Linked DNA regions of Homo sapiens. The protein of the gene in region 2 interacts with the protein of the main gene of each other region in a pairwise test. Each region holds a gene or a part of one and is shown on either strand. Other genes may lie near its edges.

Evidence for each region.
Region 1: the proteins of ABL2 (region 2) and MAP3K10 interact in a two-hybrid assay, tested with the Homo sapiens proteins (one large-scale study listed by BioGRID and IntAct).
Region 3: the proteins of ABL2 (region 2) and NCK1 interact in binary tests that used the Homo sapiens proteins (3 or more experiments, as listed by UniProt).

The regions. Positions count from the first base shown.
Region 1 is NC_000019.10:40,211,878-40,215,526, reverse strand, and holds part of MAP3K10 (mitogen-activated protein kinase kinase kinase 10), read right to left. Parts: intron 2,723-3,649; coding exon 2,551-2,722; intron 2,452-2,550; coding exon 2,339-2,451; intron 2,139-2,338; coding exon of another isoform or gene 2,011-2,138; coding exon 1,306-2,010; intron 878-1,305; coding exon of another isoform or gene 861-877; exon of another isoform or gene 626-860; intron 558-625; coding exon 235-557; 3' UTR 1-234. UniProt on the Homo sapiens protein: Activates the JUN N-terminal pathway.
Region 2 is NC_000001.11:179,104,030-179,107,678, forward strand, and holds part of ABL2 (tyrosine-protein kinase ABL2), read right to left. Parts: 3' UTR 1-3,649. UniProt on the Homo sapiens protein: Non-receptor tyrosine-protein kinase that plays an ABL1-overlapping role in key processes linked to cell growth and survival such as cytoskeleton remodeling in response to extracellular stimuli, cell motility and adhesion and receptor endocytosis.
Region 3 is NC_000003.12:136,942,181-136,945,829, reverse strand, and holds part of NCK1 (SH2/SH3 adapter protein NCK1), read right to left. Parts: intron 248-3,649; coding exon 1-247. UniProt on the Homo sapiens protein: Adapter protein which associates with tyrosine-phosphorylated growth factor receptors, such as KDR and PDGFRB, or their cellular substrates. Maintains low levels of EIF2S1 phosphorylation by promoting its dephosphorylation by PP1.

The DNA.
Region 1 (3,649 bases), on a different chromosome or scaffold from region 2:
TGATGCCCTGTCCCTGAGTATCCCTGCCCACCCTCCCCCCAGTGCAGGGTGGGCACAGGGCTCCACCCCCTGGGGTACAAAGGAATAAGTTAAGTGTCCCCCCCCTCCCTCCTTCCCCAATAAATAGAGTGAACATCCTGCCCAGGGCCTCCCCCACCTTGTGGCATGGCGGGCTGGGGCAGGGCCTGGGGCGCTACATTCATGGCTGCCCAGGCGGGCGGTGGTGGGCAGGCCTTAGTGGGAGCCGTGGGCCCCGCACAGGGGCACTGTGCTGTCTTGGTTCTGCCCCTCCATGTCCATGTCCAGCAGTGTGGGCTGCACGCTGGGGGGCCCAGGGCTCTCCGGAGTGTCTGGCCTGCTGGGAGGCGAGATGGTGAGTGTCCGGCCGAAGGAGACCAGTTTCCAGGGGTCCAAGCGGGGGCGACTGGCAGCCGGCCGAGGTCTCGGGGCAAAGGTCAGGGTGGTGGGGCGGCCTGGGAACTCAGGGGGCCGGCGGCGGGCTGGGAACAGGGCCTGGGGGTCGGGCAGGCGGGGGAAGTCCAGAAGGTCACGAGGGCCTGGTAAGAGAGGTTCAGAGGAGGTGAGTGGGGTGGGGCAGAGGGTGGCATTAAAAAGCCCAGAGCTGTTACATGAAAAGCACAAGTTCTGGTTTCTCTCGAGAAATCCGTGGATCTTGCTGCATCCAGTTTCCATCTGTAGTGTGGCAGTGCTGGGACCTTGACCTAGACTGGGACCACTCCCAGCTGCTTGCTCCTCTGGGTGGACCCTGGCATGTTCCTCAACCTTCTGGAACTGCTGCTTAGCGGCAGCCTCGGGGGCCAAAGCCCTGGTCTTCCCGACTCTCCTGCACTGGGCTAAGCTCAGGCATGGCTTAGCTCTGAAGGGGGATAAAAATGGTGCCTCACCACGCAGGTGAGGAGCAAATAGAATAACCATAACTTAAAACAAGCAGCACAGTGCCTGACGTGGGTACTTAATAACACTGCTATGGCCGCATCTCCCACCCAGTTAACAGATGGAGGAGAACAGTGTCTAGGCTGTGTAAGAATTGGCGATGGTCATGCTGGTCACAACCGCTATAGGCACCTGCCTGGCCTTATAGGCATCAGTTTGCCGCCTGTGTCTCAGTCCCCTGGAGACCCCCGATGCCTCCAGGAGTGAGCGGTAAAGGGACACAGACCCTCCCTCCTCCACAAGAAGCAGGAGGTGGCTGCCTGAGGGGTCGTGGCTGGGCTGGACTTGCGACCCTGGCAGAGGAGGAAAGAAGGGGTTTTCTGTGACCTGGGTGCAGGGCGCCTCACTCACCAGGGCCATGGCCCGCGGGCTCGGGCGGCCCCCGCTGCCCCAGCGCCCCGTCCGATGGCGTCCGCCGGTGCCCGCGGCTCACAGCGCATGCAGCCGTGACGTGGGTGGGCGTGAGCGACTGGCGGGGGTCCTTCTTGAAGCTCTCCAGCTCCAGGTCCACCAGGGGGTTGGTGCTGGGCGAGGGCGTGGGTGTGGGCGCGGGCGGGGAGGGTGGTGGGGAGGGCGCGGCCGGTGCGGCCTCGTCACTGTCAGAGCGCAGCAGTGAACGCGTGGAGTTGCAGTCGGACACGGACGACAGCGACACGAGGGTGGCCGAGGGCGCCAGGCCCAGGCCGGGGCCCACGTCTTCGCGGCGGCCGTGGGGACGCGCGGGTGGGCTGAGGCCCCGCGGGAAGCGGCCGGCGCGGGGAAAGAAGAGGCCGTCGAGCCAGCGCCGCTGCTCCTCACCGTCGGCCGCGCGCGCCTCGGCCACGTCGGCGCCCAGGCCCACAGCCCCCAGCAGCGTGGCGCAGCCTAGCAGCGCCAGGTCGCAGCGCCGCCGGGCGCCGTGTCCCCACCGAGCGGGGGGCGCGGACGGCGTCGGCTCCCACGGCGCCCGCGCCCCCGGGGAGGGCTCGGCAGGCAGTGGCACTGAGAGGTAGGACGGGGTCGAGTAGGGGGAAGGGGGCACGCTGCTGCCTCCATCCTCTGCCTCCGCGAACTCCTCTGCAACCGGAGAGGGCCATCACTCCGCTGCAGGGCTGGCCAGGGCCCCACGGGGACTTGTGCCAAGGGACAGCCCCCGATGACCCCTCCAACAGCAAGACCAAGACCCACGAGCATCGTTCTTGAATCTGTCTCCAGGAGAAGCCTCAGAGAAGGGTGGTCCCTGCCCCTGGAAATGACCCCCCACGCCCCAGGGGCCACCATCTCCCTTCCCAGGAAGGCCTTCCACTCACTGGCCCAGTGAAACCTGGTCTCTTCGCTCAGCCCCAGGAGGCTCACCCCTTTGGCCAGGGAACCCCCACCCCCTTACAAGAACCCAGGCTCTTACCCATCTCATTGAGGCTGGCAAAGCCAGGGGCGATGGGTGTGTGTTTGGGGGACTTGCCCAGGTTGGGGGCACTTGATGACCACTGTTTGCTTCCTTCCCCCAGCCCCTTCAGCCTGCGGGGTCCAGGGAGAGATGGAGACCTCAGTCCTGTGGCCTGGAGCCTGGGAGCTGGGGCTTGGGCACAGGGTGGGCATGACCACACCACACCTCACCTCTCCTCTCCTCCCACCCGCTCCTTCTGCAGGGTGGAGCTGGGCCCCCACGTTCGTCCCTTCTTCTTGCCCCCGACCAGTTCTTCCTTCTTTGGGGGCCCACCGCGGCTCCATGTCCCACTTCCTCCACTGCTGCTGCCACTGCTGCTGCCACCACAGTCCACGGGAGTCACTGGGTCCAGAGAAGCCACTTGGTTACTGGGTGGAGGATCTGTCCCCACTGGGCTCCCAGCCTCCAGTGCCCCCAGCTCAGGCCCACCCTCCGCCTGGGAGTCCAAGGGCTCTTTTGAACTCCAGTCATGACCCTCCCTGCTATATATCTCCCCATAGCCCCCTACTGCTGTCAGGACAAGGTTCCAGCTCCTCCGCCTGGCACTGAAGGCCATGAGCGGTTCCCTGCCAACTCCTCCAGCCTCCCCTCCTCTTCACAGCCTAACCCTTCACCATTCATTCTGGCGGGCTGCCTGCGCTTCTGGTCTCCAGCTCTGGGTAGTTAGTTCCCTGGGGGTCAGCTGCCTTCATCTCTGTACCTGCAATGCTCTGGACCTATCTGGTGCCAGTGTTTGCTGCCATGGTATGGGTATTTGTCTCTGTGTCCCCTGCAGGACTGACCTCCTGGGCCTGGTACAAAGCAGGTGCCCAGACAGAGGGCAGGGGGGCTGTGGGTGGGGACAGTGCTGGGGTGAATGAGGTGTTGGAACTTGGGAGCTAGCCTTTCACCCTTCAACCCACCAGGAAACTCCGATGACCGTGTCTCTGCCATATAGCCCCGACTGTGGACATCTGTCCCTTCCAAGTCCCCCACCCTGGCCTGGCCTCCATCATCTCACTGCTTTCTCCACCTTTATTTCTTACAGCAGCCAGAGGGAAAAAGGTCAATTTGATTCCCTCAGTGCCTTGCTCGCATGGCTCTGGGGGCTGCCCCAGGGCAGTTAAAAGAAAATCCATACCAGGCCAGGTGCGGTGGCTCTTGCCTGGAATCCCAGCACTTTGGGAGGCCCAGGCAGAAGAATCACTTGAGGTCAGGAGTTGGAGACCAGCCTGGCCAACATGGTGAAAACCCCATCTCTACTAAAAATACAAAAATTAGCCAGGCATG
Region 2 (3,649 bases):
TCCGTCAGTTTTTTTTGTTTGTTTTGTTTTGTTTTTTAACCCTAGGGGATTCTGCTGTGCATCCCTAGACTAGGTGTTAATAATAGTAGTAGTAGAACATTTATAGAGTGTGCTCATTGTGTGCCAGGCACTTGAGCTAAGTATCTTACAAATATCATCTCATTTAATCCTTACAACAACCCTGAGGTAGTTACTATTATTATCCCTGTTTTACAGTGAGGAAACTGAGGCTCCCAAGGTTAAATGACTTGCCTTTTAGACTGGCATTAGAGCCTAAACACTAAACCACTATCTATACTGCATCCTTTAAACTCAAAATCTCCATGACTTTAGTTAAATAAAAATGGGCAGTGCCTTAGCAAAGTCAGCATGCTTTATTACCTGGGACATATTTTACTAGCCAATTTTCAGTTGAATCCTAAGAAACTTTCTATCTAATTTAAATCTTAAAATGCTGCTGGTAAAGGGTCTCCACTATAATGACCTCTATGTACAGAGGTCATCTAGAAAAACACTGAATGAATTTCTTAGGGCCAAATTTTTTAAGGCTAATCTCTGAAAATCATGATGGAAGTCTACAGGAAAATATATACATTTAAATTTTACACAAAGCCTTTTAAGAAAATACTTTAGGTAAAGCACAATCAAGATGTATTCAACACAAATCACTGCATTTTAAAGTGGGAAATCTAAACTGAAGTAATATTATCTGTACATGAAAGGAATCAAGCAGTGGCAGCCCAAAGGCATGCATCCAGATATACAGCATAACCACTTTAGAAAACTGTCAACGCCTTGGACAAGGGCCTTTGCTCATTGCTTTTAGAATAGTTAAAATTAAACTACACTTTTCCAGAAGCAGTTCTCTCTGCTTTGGATTCAAACCTTTTAATTTACATAAGGGTTTGTGTTTAAGCTGGTCCTTTTCAAGTAGAAAAAGGAAAAACCTAAATTATGCTTGTATAGTAAGTTGACAGTGCCTCTTTAACCTGAACCTTGAGCCCTCAACCCCTGAAGTTACATAGTTCAAGCATCATGTGGACGGGGTATGCTCCAATAGTCAATGCCACTCTTGACAGTGTTGACAAAAATCAATTCCATTTATATATCGTGCACCCACTGTAGGCAAGACAGCTAGGTGCTGCCCCTGAGTAAGACACAGCCCCCACCCCCTACCCTTCAGATTGTTGTTGGGCAAGAAAACCAGGGAGCCTAAATACACTCAGTAGTGTTTCTCCAAGGCTTAGTTCCAGAACTCTCAAGGGAAAATAGAGCCCTTGCTTAAAAAACAAAAAACAAAAAAACCCTGAAAAACAATTACAATCCCTTAACTTGCATCCCACAACAACAGGGATAAACCTAAAAAGCAGCATAATAATATTCTACAGTTTTAGCTTTCCCATCCTCGACCTTAAAAGGCTAGCTGCTAAAACGAGTTCTTCAAGTTTACGGACATGTATGATGAGCAAGAATGGCAGGAAAGAAGGTGGGAGAAGGACCGCTGGTTTTTACATCTGAGTTCTCTTCCAACCACTAGGAGGAGATGAACCCAATCACTAGCTGCCTGTGCTGCAACTGCAGGTGACATACTGCGGGGATCACCCAACACCTGCCAGGAATGCCCAGCACCGCGTGTCTCCTCTAATCCTCTTAACCTGGGCCTCCTTTGGAGCAGCAATGGTAAGAATCAAGGTTTCCTTTCTTTCCAATGAAAACTCAATTTTGTTCTTGGTCAAAAATGCCAAACTCTATTCAAAACATAGTTTTCCCCTTAGTATTCTAGCCCAATTCATATAATCTCAACAATTCTTAATTTCATTAATATTTTCTACTCAGCAAATAAGATAATGGAAAACAATTCAGCATAACAACACTGCACTAAAAGAGCTTTCCAGAGAGGCTCTCCAAGGGATAGCTGCACACTTACTTGCAACACCCTTGAGAACATGTACTGTTACCTTAATTAAATAGATTAAGAGATGAGGCTGTGGTTTGACAGTGTATCAATGACAGAGCCAGAAGAAAACTCAGTGCTCAATGTTGAATTCCTATCTTCCTAAGCTAATATTCCTTTGAGAGAATAAAATAAAAATATGTGTGTATTGAGCTCTCCTTGGGGAGGATGGGGGAAGTATTCATAAAGCTTTAAAAAGAGAATGAAGCAGTAACTGGAATTAGACCCGATACCAAGAACATTAATAATACCTAACTCATTAGATTCACTTCCATGCCATCCTAATTAGCTTCCACAATTATAACTAAGGAAGGAAGGAAAAGGCCTATTTTTCAAGGGCAAAACATATTTAAGGATTAAGTCATTAGGTTCCCAGGGTCTACCTGGTGCTCCCTGAAAATGACTACTCCTTCAATTATGCATTCTTAAAATAGAAGTGAAATGACAAAATAAATAAAGAATATTCCCAATAAGATCTGTACAAATAAGCACAATGATTGGGTGGGGGAGTAGGGAGGAATATGTGAGAGAAGAAAAGCATGTGAGAATAATGTGGGGGTGATTCACTTCAAATCCATAGAGAGGAGAATGCCTCTCCCTATTCTCTACCTGGATTGGGCTTAAGGTGGTAAGGGAAGGGAAAGGTACAGAGAAACAGCCATTAGGACCAAGCCAGCTTTTCCTCTCAGTCACATACAGGCCACTGGGTTTCAAGAAAAGACCATCTCCCTGGTATTTTAGTTGATAAAGAAAAATACACAGCTGCTCAAGTCCTTGGCCAGTATGTCAGTATGCAGGGGAACTGTATCAGAACAGGATTCATTCCTTTGTGAGAACCTGTAGGGACTACTATTTTCAAAATCAACACTGGTTAATGCTCTGAATGCTACCAGGAATAAAGGAAGACAGCCTGCCCAGCAAAAGACAGAGAAGAACCACTAGGGAGACCCCTGTACTTATGGTTTACAGATAGCCACCAACAGGCAGGAAGCCGATCCTGGTCCATTATGAAATAATATACCAGACTGGGAGAAGTGACTTCTGCTAATCTGTGTAAGATTTTAGAAGGTTTTCAATTTCTGATTCAACTTTCCAGCATTCTTTACTTCCTGCACTAACTGATACACCAGCGGAAAATAGGACAGAGGCATTCAGATAGGGCCATATTTCCCAGTTTTATGTTGTAGCACTCTGATTTGCAGTTCTTATTACAGCAGCAATGGCCTTGTGGAAGCAAGGCTAACAGCTACTTCCAACAGCCCTGAACAAAAATTTCTCTTGGTACATTCCCAGCTTTCTTTTCTGCTGTCCCACCAAATTCATTAGGTAAATTGGAGCATAATCACCATTAGTACCTACCAGAGCCCCAGGTCTGGGTGCAGCTGCTGCAGTCTTGCTGAGAGCAGCCCTGCCTAGCACTTCCCAGCATTCCAGGTAGGGATGGGCTGCATTGCCTTCCTTATGACATACACATGTTCCCTATTTTCCAGTGCAGTTTCCAACCCTGTCCACTACTGCCTTGCCCCCACTTAATTTACCTCTCCTATACTTATGTGGTTTGCTTCTTATTTTTGAGATGAAACTGTAAACGTGAGAACTCAGGGATCTGAGGTACTTCACATAAACACACTCAAGTATGAGTCTTTCATTTTCTGAAAACAAGAACACAGGAAAACAAGTCCTTTTCCCTCTCCC
Region 3 (3,649 bases), on a different chromosome or scaffold from region 2:
TTTGAAGGGAACCATCCAACTTGTCCATTGTAGCTACCACGCCACCACCCATCACTGCATTTCTCCATGACGATCACCTTTGTCCCCTTTATCAATGATAATTCATCCTCTCTCTCAGCCATGTAGTTAAATTTCACATAAGCGGGCATGTTGAGGTCATAGAGACGTTCCCCTGGGTCAACAAAACTATCATCAGCAGGAGATGCAGAATCTGGCACACTAGGTTTTCTTTTCACTTTTCCAATGCCTGTTGAAATTAAAAAGGGCCATGAGAGGAGAATATAAAAAAATGATTACCAAAAGAATGAACTTATTCATTATTAAAAAGAGATCTTCAACTCTATATAGATCTTTAAAGCTTTTAAATATAACAAATTTCTATGTAGTTAAAAATCATCTTTTTGGAAATAAGATGCAAATTTTCTTTTTCTTAACCAAATAAATATTTAATTTGTTATTATATGACAGTTCACCATCTTTTCTCTTGTCAAAGGCCCTGAAATAACTATATAACATAATTATAAAGTTGTCCTAAATTAATGAATTCCCTCTTAAATGTAAATATAGATTTCTTTCATAGCTACAATCTAAGTACACAAAGGCTCCACCACACCCATACTCTTCTTGTCTTAGTTTAAGCAAGCTAGATTCTACAATGAGCTGTATAAAAATAAAATTATTTCTATCTTAAATCAGAATATGATATGCAATATAAAATTGCAGTTATGTCTGGCTAATCTTCCCATTTGCTTTCTTGGTTCCCAGACCCAGGTAGCTCTATTTACCTCATATGTTTATTTTAAAATATTATTTGTTTTTCTCCCCTTACCCCAGTCATATGTAACCTCCAAAAGGACAGGGAGTTTTGTTTGTTTACAGATAGAATCCCAAGGATCTTGTATAGTGCTTAGTACACAGTAAATGCTTAACACATATGTGTTGAAAGAAATGAGAAAATCACCAAATGGTACTATCAATACAAATGTACGCTACATCAACTTCAGTCAGGCATTTTCACTGCTGCCCATTTCTTAGCGTGTGATTTTATGCTCTACTTTACCTAGAAAACTGAGGCTTCCCTAGGTAAAACTTCTCAAATTCCTTTTGTCTCAAAACTCTCATTATCCTCACTCTCGTTCTTCACTCAAGTCTCCAAATCCTGATCCTTCTAGGATCTTAATACTATCTTTCCTGACTCTCTTGGGACTCTCGACATCCTTGTTTTCCTTCCTATTTAGTCCCTTCAATTGTCTAAAAACACACTCATATCTTTTCTACTCCAAAATGAAGTTACTTTAACTCTGCTACAACTTTTAAACCGTAACATTTTGGTAATTTATTTATTTTTTCTCTAACTGGTCCAATTTTCCTATAGAATAAACTATACCACTCTTTTAAAAGTTGTCTTTCCCGGCTGGGCACGGTGGCTCATGCCAGTAATCCCAGCATTCTGGGAGGCTGAGGCGGGCAGATCACAAGCTCAAGAGATCGAGACCATCCTGGCCAAACATGGTGAAACCCCGTCTCTACTAAAAATACAAAAATTAGCTGGGTGCAGTGGTGTGCACCTGTAGTCCCAGCTACTCAGGAGGCTGAGGCAGGAGAATCGTTTGAACCTGGCAGGCGGAGGTTGCAGTGAGCCAAGATCACGTCACTATACTCCAGCCTGGCGACAGGGCAAGACTCTGTCTCAAAAAAAAAAAAAAAAAAAAAAAAAGGTTGTTTTTCCTTTTCCCTCGACTTTTTCACCACTCACACTCCCAACTCTTTATTATCTGATCCTTTGTCTCCAACATTCTAACAAAACTACTCAATTAAAACCATTCTTATGAATACCATTCTTATGTCATCTCTCCTTACTGTCAAATCAGTAACTTTTAAAGTCCTCAGCCTTCTCAAACTCTATATGCAGCAACCAAGATCACAGCCCACTCTCTCCATTATGTTTTCTTCTTCTTTGACTTCCCCGAATTTCTTATTTTCCCTCCCAACCTGTTTACATATTCTTGTTTACCTCTGTCTAGGCTCCTCTAACCTTGTTATTATAACACTGCATTGTACTTGTTTACTTGTCTGTCTTCCTCAATATGAGTGAACTTCCTGAGGGCAGAAAACGAGATCTTATTCGTTTCTGTCTCCAACGCTTAGCAGTACATACATCAGTAGTAGGAACAAAGGAAAAACAAAATTATGTATTCAGCAGTCAGCAAACATGCTGAATGAATAAATGAAGAATTCCTTAGCTGAAAGTGTTTCACAAGATGACATACTTGACCTTCCTCTCTATTCCAAGGAAATCATACACTTTCATTTTCTATAATTTCTGTGCAGAAGGTTCCCAGATCTCTTTGCAGCTCTAAGACCTTTCTGGAATTCAGGCATTACAATTCCAACTGTCACTAGACACCCACAGATTGTGCCATCAGTACCTCAAACCCAACACTCATGTCCAAATAAAAATAATCCAGTCTATACCCCTAAATCAACTTCTTCCTTCCTAATTTTCTTACTTCCGGTTAATGATAGCCTTCAGAGAAATCCCTACATTTGGGGTGATACCACCAAAAATAGTAGAGTAAGGAACTCCAAGGCACTGTCCCTGCAAAAAGCAATGAATGCAATTAATGAGCTGGTAAATACTGTCAGACTCAACTTTTGCAGAACTCTGGAATCTAGTAAAAAAAAAAAACTTATAAAATCTAGGGCAAGGCTTGGTAAAGAAAGAAGTTGCTGCTTTGTGGTAAAGAGAGTGCTATCGCATCCTAAGTTGCCTGCCCACCATCCCCCACACCCCAAGTCAGTGATGGCTGTGTGGACAGTAACCTGCACTCCTAATGCCAGAGGAAGCAATACAGATCTCATTCTTAAACAATTGTGATTGTGGGTTTCAACTTGTCTGGCAGCTCCCTGAAGGACCTGAGCAATGGCTTGCCTTGGCTTTGCCTGACTTGAATCATTCCCAGGCATAGGGAGTCTTCCTGGGTGGTTTTTGCAAAAATCATTTAATGGATGCAGCAGCCTGGGGCAAGGGACAACAACTGGGACAAGGAACAGACAGATGGAAAAGCCTGGACAGAAAGGGGATGGGAAAGAATATACATGGGGTAATAAGGGGTGTGTATACCAATCAAGAAGGACGTGCACATGGCCAGGGCTGGATGCACATTCAGGAAAGGCCCAAGAAGACCCTAAGCTTTCACCCTGGCTGATCTTCAGGCTTTGAGCAAACAGTAAGCAAAGGCTAAGGCAGAATTATAAATGGCATCACTAAGTGGTCAAAAACTGCCCCAACATAAAGCCATCTGTAAAGATGGGGAGAGGTTTTCTTTTGTTTGTTTGTTTTTTCTTTTGGCTCCAGGTGTTTAACGAAACTCTGTTAAAACCCTAGCTGATTACTAAGCAAATGGAATAGACTTCAGCGGCCCCACATGACCAGGAATATAGAGCTTATAAAAGTAGTTTAGTAAAGTCACTAAACAAGCAAACAACAACCACTCACAATAAGCAGCAGTAATAAGCCCTGGGGAGGGGATAGAATCTGATCTGATGCTGAAAGCAAAAGAGCCAACAAAGAATTCTATATTTAGCAAAACTGTCCTTCAAAAATGAAGGAGAACATAAGACATTCCCAGATAAACAAAAACTAAAG